2 linked regions of the Homo sapiens genome follow. The protein of the gene in region 1 binds, or shares a complex with, the protein of each later gene. Each region holds a gene or a part of one and is shown in the gene's direction. Other genes may lie near its edges. The genes, in order: PPP1R8 and TTF2.

The links.
Region 2: PPP1R8 (region 1) and TTF2 share a complex: the UniProt entries of both Homo sapiens proteins name them as parts of the spliceosome.

Annotation. Positions count from the first base shown.
Region 1 is NC_000001.11:27,833,571-27,837,488, forward strand, and holds part of PPP1R8 (nuclear inhibitor of protein phosphatase 1), read left to right. Parts: intron 1-830; exon of another isoform or gene 831-996; intron 997-3,918. UniProt on the Homo sapiens protein: Inhibitor subunit of the major nuclear protein phosphatase-1 (PP-1). It has RNA-binding activity but does not cleave RNA and may target PP-1 to RNA-associated substrates. May also be involved in pre-mRNA splicing.
Region 2 is NC_000001.11:117,058,236-117,062,153, forward strand, and holds the start of TTF2 (transcription termination factor 2), read left to right. Parts: upstream 1-2,090; 5' UTR 2,091-2,111; coding exon 2,112-2,139; intron 2,140-2,219; coding exon 2,220-2,322; intron 2,323-3,918. UniProt on the Homo sapiens protein: DsDNA-dependent ATPase which acts as a transcription termination factor by coupling ATP hydrolysis with removal of RNA polymerase II from the DNA template. May contribute to mitotic transcription repression. May also be involved in pre-mRNA splicing.

The DNA of each region.
Region 1 (3,918 bases):
CCTTACGGTATTATTTATTTACCAAGAGATGGATATTAAGCCCACTATGACCATGTAGCTGTGAGTCTCCCATATTAGACCAATTTTATATTTGCTTGCTCAGCTAGAATTTAGGTTCAAGGCCCCATTATTGAATGCAGTTTTTTCATTGTGGTTTTTTGGTATTTAATAAAAATGTTGCAGTTCCACGGTTGCTAGATTGAAAAGCTATCTGAGATCTTTTGAAGGTTACTCTGTAAATATATTGTTGTCACTTTTGAGATGTTGTAGAGATAACCAGGTATTTTGCAAAGTATTAAGGCATGCACGAGTTTTAATGATTTCTCCTGTTATGAATACATCATGGACTCAGCCAGTCACAGAGAGCCCCTTTGTCATGGGTTCTTCTCTCTTAAAGATTTAAAACCTCAAGATTATTCAAAGAAATAATTTAGCTAAAATATCTGTAAAACCTTTTTTGCTATAGATTGTTCCACAGTTACAAAATATTTGTTGCTGAATAGCACAAAGCTTGAAGACATATAGGGATCTGTTTTATTACTAGAATTTAGCAAATCTTTAGTTTGCAACAGGAAGAAACAGACAGGGTTGCCTAGTCTTAATGATAACATCACATTCCTTTGTGGAATAATTGGTATTACATTTTCAAAACACTCTAACTTGCCAGACACTCCTCTGATCATTGGTGTCTATTAGCTGATAACGTTCTCTTTCGATGTTGTTAAGTGTGCTGAGTTGCCACAAAGTTGTCAAGTTACAATCCTTAGACATCACTGTATTCTTGAGAGGCGTAGACCTGAGATGTGCTTATTTTTAGATTTAAACTTGATCAGCACTTGATACTAACCGAGCTGTCTATATCCTAGCCTTGTGTCAAAGGCTTGTGATGTGTTGTGATAGCTGGGTTTAAGAAGTGCAATATTAAAACAAAAGCCATGAGTCTTTTAAGCCCAGTGTGTAAAGATACACTCTGAGTTATAACTCAGAGGCACAACTGGATAGCAGTACTGGCCATAGCTAGTCAAGAAGCTACGGCTTTAGTGACTGTTGAAAGCCAGTGCATTATTTCATTCACTTGGACAGAAGCAGCACATTGTTCAACATCTAACACATTTCCTTGGTTCTAAGACATACTGTTTTCTGTTAAAATTCCATACATTTTGGCCAGGTGCGGTGGCGGCTCACACCTGGCCTCCCAGCACTTTGGGAGGCCGAGGCGGGCAGATCACCTGAGGTCAGGAGTTCAAGACCAGGCTGGCCAGCATGGCAAAACCCCGTCTCTACTAAAAGTAAAAAAATTAGCCAGGTGCAGTGGCACACCCCTATAATCCCAGCTACTTGGGAGGCTGAGGCAGGAGAATCGCTTGAACCCAGGAGGCAGAGTTTGCAGTGAGTGGAGATTGCACCACTGCACTGCAGCCTAGGCAACAAAGCAAGACTCCATCTCAAAAAAAAAATTCATTCATTTTAACATTTCTGTAATTGGGGTGCCTTTAATACTGAATGTGTACATTTAATTTGGAGGCACTCTTTTTTTTTCCTCTCAAAGAAATCCCTAAATCTCTAGTATGTCTTTTGGCACCCTAGATTCATAGAAATTTAGTCATTGTTATTTTAGAACCCAAGAGCTGGTGGTCTTTCATGTTCCTTCAGCACAATCTGTGAGCACTGTGGTTAGCAAATTTAAGTTTGTGACAGCATAATCCATGTGCATATAAATATGAATGAGAAGTGCAATGAGATTCAGCCCAAATAACTATTACCTAGAGAGAACAAGTTGTTGAAATTTCTGGGCTCTCTCTTAATCCTGAAATAATGTCTTATTTTTAACTCAAGTCTTAAAAACCTTGGGTCAAAGCAGACATGAAGGTGACTGACTGAGCTGTCAGGCTGTTGTTGAATCTTGGTTCTCCATAGTAGTGTGGGCCCAGAACAAGCTCTTCCAGCAGCAGATGGGCACTGCCAGATAGGGTTTCCCAGAGGTGACCCACATATCCAAGCTAGCCTGAATTAATTGAACCTTAAGGCTGAGCTTGAAAGAAACTGGCTAAGTGATTGTTTAAGGAAAAGAGTGTGACCCACAGTACTTATTCTCTCCTTAAAATATTCCTTGCCATATGGTGCATTTTTTGATGTAAGTAGAATGAAGAAAATATATAATGTGGTTAAAACAGCTTAGACTCTGAAGCCAGACAAATCTGAATTTCTAACCCGGCCCACAAGTATCTAACTGTGTGAACTTGAGTATGTTAATTTCTTTATGCCTCAATTTTGTCATTTATAAAAATAGGAAGAGAATAGTATTACCCACCTCATAGGGTGGTTGTGAGGATGAAATGATATAATGTAAAACTCATAGCATAGTGTGTGGCATAGAAGCGCCTAGCAGTTGTTACTGTAATCAGTGCTGAAATTGTGCTTGCATGAGGTGTATCTTTTGGTTTTGTAAGGGGATAATAGCAGCCCATTGTGAGTTAAAGGACTTAGCCAGGAATGAAATATAAGCTTCTTGATTCCCAGCCGGGTACTAACTTGACTATACTCTACTCAGCTTTATGCTATATTTTCTCAGGGATTTTAGGACTATAGTGTGAAATGTGAACTAGCGTTTAATGAGACCTCATGTTTAAAGGAAAAACACAACATACCCAAATGAGAGTTATTCCTCAAGTGCTCCCACTGGATTACTAGACCACTAGCACTGGAAGAAGCTTTAGCAATAATTCATCTAGAGTCCTTCATCTATAACAGTCCAGTTTATAACCGATCTGTGGCAAAGGCTTTACTGATCCAGGATTAAAAGAAATATAAGGACAGGTATAGCAAGTTTTTTATTTTTATTTTTTTGTTTGTTTTTGTTTTCGAGATAGAGTCTTGCTCTGTCGCCCAGGCTGGAGTGCAGTGGCCGATCTCGGCTCACTGCAAGCTCTGCCTCCCGGGCTCATGCCATTCTCCTGCCTCAGCCTCCCGAGTAGCTGGGACTACAGGCACCTGCCACCACGCCCGGCTAATTTTTTTTTTGTATTTTTAGTAGAGACGGGGTTTCACTGTGTTAGCCAGGATGGTTTTGATCTCCTGACCTTGTGATCCGCCTGCCTCGGCCTCCCAAAGTGCTGGGATTACAGGTTTGAGCCACCGCACCCGGCCAGCAAGTTTTTTATAAAGCTAAATTTAGCTCAGGTCTAGCACGGTGGCTAACACCGGTAATCCCAGCACTTTGGGAGGTTGAGGCTGGCCATTCACCTGAGGTGAGGAGTTCGAGACCAGCCTGGGCAACATGGTGAAACTTGTTTGTTTTGAGACTGTCTCAAAAACAAACAAAAATACTTTGGGACTATGGCAGCATGATTAGAATAGAAATAGGTGTTTACACTTCATTCCTTTCCCAAATATACATTTGAATGTTTATTTTCTGAGAAGCAATCTTATTACAATTTTTTTCGGTTTCACTAGGCTAAAAGCAATCTTGTTACCTTATAGACATGCATTGTGCTTCTTGTTTCCTAATTGATCTAAAATTAAGATCCAACAGAACCTTTTTTCAGAAGACAGCCACTCTTCATACAATTGTTGATCTCAGGCCAGGCACGGTGGCTCACCCCTGTAATCCCAGCACTTTGGGAGTCTGAGGCGGGTGGATCATGAGGTCAGGAGATCAAGACCATCCTGGCTAACACGGTGAAACCCTGTCTCTTCTAAAAATACAAAAAATTAGCTGGGCGTGGTGGCACACGCCTGTAGTCCCAGCTACTCGGGAGGCTGAGGCAGGAGAATGGTGTGAACCCGGGAGGCAGAGCTTGTAGTGAGCCGAGATCACGCCACTGCACTCCAGCCTGGGTGACAGAGACTCGTCTCAAAAAAAAAAAAGAGTTGTTACTGTCTTGAGGGCAGGCCACTTATATCTAATAGAATTAAGAA
Region 2 (3,918 bases), about 89 Mb from region 1:
TGTTTCCAGTTATGACCATCTTTCGTCCAATCTCAAACTTATTTTTTTCAATCTTGTAAATATGATGAGGTGGAATAAGTTGTCCAGGGACTTAACATTTTGATCTAGTATATTTTTAATTTATGGAAGAAATATTCCTCCTGTCTGTGATTTGGCTGTGCACACTTTTGTGAGGTTGGACTGGAGATACCGACTTGGGTACTTGCAGAGGAGGAGCTTCTTCCTTAACGGGATATTTAAGAGGCCCCGATTTTGCCTTGTTTCGAAAATTATTCAAGAAATAATTAATTACCATGCCCCTCTTTCTGCAAATCCTGTATTCATGGTATACTACCTCCAATACAGCATCTATTAAACATGTACAAATACATCATTTGCAAGAATAACAATCTTGGAATAATGAAAATGCTTCTACCTATTTGTTGTTCCTGTCTTATCTCTAAGTTCATCTAAGTTTCGGAAGGGTAGTTATGTATAAAGGAACTTCACTTTGGAAATTCCATTTTTCTCTAGTCCTAGAGAGTTACTGCTAACTCCATTCATTTTGACATTTAAATACTATTTTATATTGTTATTTAAGTGTTCAACATGTACTAGTTCAGTCTCCTCAAAATACTGAGTAAGTTCCTTGTGCTTAGAATAGTTGTTTCAAACTTTGTGTGTGTGAATGAATGAATTTTACATTTCTCAAGCACCTAGTCCACAACGGGCACAAAAAAGCTATTTAGTAAGTACTGTTTAATTAATAAATGATACCTCAGGTTTGTCTCCCTTCCTCCGGATCCCCATAACATGTACATTTATCACATCGCCCAGATTTCCTAGACATTACAGATTTTCTGTTCTACGGCCCCCATAAGAACAGTGCAGGTGCCACACCATATGTCTGGGACATATGGTCCTCAATAGCTGCAATATGAAACTATTTCTATTGCAATAAATCTAATATCTATTCCTCTCTGTTTACTAATAGTTTTGATTACAACTTCAAATTTTAAAAATCGAGGATGAAGTTAAATAGAAGGGAACTGTCCCCTTTCTTCTATTTAACCTCGTCTTCGATTTTTAAAATTACAAAAGCATAATAGTAAAAAAAAGTTTGACAATACAAAATGATAAAGTAAAATTCGCCTTCACCAAAAGTCATCTATTTCCCCTTCTGTGGTTTCCACGTTGCGGCTGGTAACTCGGGGCTTCCACGCTGGGCGAGCCTAGAGAACATCCAGTACACACAGGAAGCAGCAGCGCGGGCCAAATGGCGCTGAGACCTGCGCACCTGTCCACGGACCGCCCACTCGCCAACTCTGACCTTGGGTGAGTCTCTCAAACTTGAGTCTCGGAATCTTCCACAAAATGCTACCCATCTCACCAGGTCGAGTGAGGAGGGTCGTGTTATGTGTAAGCACTTTGTGAAATCTAAAGCACGAGGCAAACGTAAAGCATTGTAGGGGGTCCTAGAGAAGTCTTTGTGCCTGCCTATCAGAGCCGTTTCAGTTCCCCGCAGCAGCTTCCAAGGACCTCCCACCATGCCCGCCGCTTCGGCTCCTGCACTGCAAATCTCGCGGCTCGGCCTGCAGCGGCGGCTTCCCCTGGCCTCCCACCCCAGCGACTGAGCGCGGAGCCCAGCGCGCACGAGCGCCAGCCTGGCTCAGAGACACCCACGAAGCCAGGGCCTTTCAGCGCCTGCTAACTGGCGCTACCCCTAGGGCCGCCTCTCGGTTTTAAACGTAAACAAGAGTTGCCCTTCCGTCTTCCAAGACCTGCAAATCGAAGCTTCTTTTCCTCCAGAAGCCCCGCCACCTTCTAAGCTTCTCCCCAGCCTCAGCCACGCCCCAGCCTGCAAAAGCCGGGTCCTTTACGCCCCCTGGCTCCGTATTTGATTTCGGCGCGCGCCATACCTGAGGGCAGCTGTGATTGGTTGGAGGTGAGCGAAGTTCCTATATGATTGGCTGATAGCGGCTAGGACGGGTGAAGGCCAAGGGCGGAGAATTATGGGAGGGATTAAGACTGCAAGAGCTGAGTGATGGTTGGTTCCTGAACAAAGAGGGCGGAGTAAAAGGCGGAAGCAGAATTGGGGGCGGGGCTTTGTGGAACTTGGGGGACCCAGCGAAATGGAAGAAGTTAGGTGTCCAGAGCACGGTAAGGGGCTAGGGTCTCAGCGTCCCGGGGCCTGTTGATTTAGCGTGGCGTAATCGTTGTTCACTTTCTTCTCTCTTCAGGGACTTTCTGCTTTCTTAAGACCGGCGTCCGCGATGGCCCGAATAAAGGAAAGAGCTTCTACGTGTGCCGGGCAGACACGTGCAGCTTCGTGCGGGCCACCGAGTAGGTCTGGAGCTGGGCCCCACTCCCTGTGGCTGCCCGGGGCCTCCCGAGAGGAGCTTCCCGCTCCCCGCTGTCGGGCGTCACAGGGCCGAGGAGTGGTGGGGCCCTAGTTTGCGGTGTCAGGACCCTTTAAGCAATTGGTGATCCCAGGGCAGCGTGGCGTGTTCGGAAGACGCCCAGCTAATTCTGGCTGTGTGACCCGAGGCTGGTTACCCCCCTCTCTGGGCCGATGGTTCCCCTACCTGTAAAATTGAGGATCCGGTGTTTTCCAGCTCTGGGTTTCTATTCACTTGACAGGCCTTAACCACTCCCTTCTCCTGCCCAGACAGTCCCTCCCCCTTTAAAGGAGTAAGGACACACAGCAGACATAGTGGAAAATAATTTGTCCCTGTTTTGCACTAGTTTTAGGCCCGACGGTTTTTTTTAAATGTTTGAGCTTAAAACACTCTAGTGATTAGTTGTTAGCCTTCTTATTTTTAAGTAGGATTCTCTGCATCTAAATGGTGAAATTGATAATTCAAAGAAATTAGCGCTGGAAGAAACAACGGAGGGCCTGGCGCGGTGTGTGACGCCTGTAATCCCAGCACTTTGGGAGGCGAAGGCGAGCGAATCGCTTGAGCCCAGGGGTTCGAAACCAGCCTGGGCAACATGGTGAAATCCCGTCTCTACGAAAAATTAAAAAAAATTGTCTAGGCATGGTATCACACGCCTGTAGTCCCAGCTACTCGTGAGGCTGAGGTGGGAGGAGAGAGTCAGAAATGTTAAGCATCTTCTCTAAAGTGAGGAAAGTTAATAGTTTGTCAAGTGTTAATGTTTTCACAGTACCAAGTGTCTACATTTTCTATGTGAATTTTAAAACTATCATCACATCATTAAACATCTCCTGCTCTCTATTCAGCAAAACTTGGTAGAGAAAAGTTATTTTTCTCCGTGTCAGATGTAGAGTACATAATGGATATCAGTATTAGAAAAGTGCCCTTTCAACATGTATACTAACTTCCCATGTTTCTGTTTCATGAGTTAGATGATTTACACTGAGCCTCTCAGATATAGTACCCAGGTCAAGTTTTGTGAGATAGAAGCATTTTTACCTTTGCAGGAATTCAACATTAATGGTGGCATAAGATTTGGTTTTACATTAAGAGAAACACTCTTATTTAGGATCCCATCTACACAAATGCTTTGCTATACAAACTAGCACAGTGGTATTTGAAGACAATTATTTGATAAACTTGATTTATTTGGACTATATCTGATAACCAATATACAGGCCAAAAAAAGTGCCACAGGTTTAGGAGAGTACTTTAAACCTTCACTCAAACCTGTTTACTCTCAAATGTTATATATATTTAAATTTTTTCATAATAAGTTGGAAGGGAGTGATTAAAAACTTACACAAAACAAGAAGCATATAGGGCGTATTGTTAGAGGTAGGCGTGTGAATAACACTAAGTGACAGCTCTCAGCTTGTTAGAGGGAAAGGATGAAGGGAAGAGCCTGGGGAAAATTCATACAGGGCCTCACAGCCAGCCCTAATTATGTCATTCGTAGGGGGATCCCAGTGTAGAGATTACACAGTGCAGTGTGGTTTTAAAC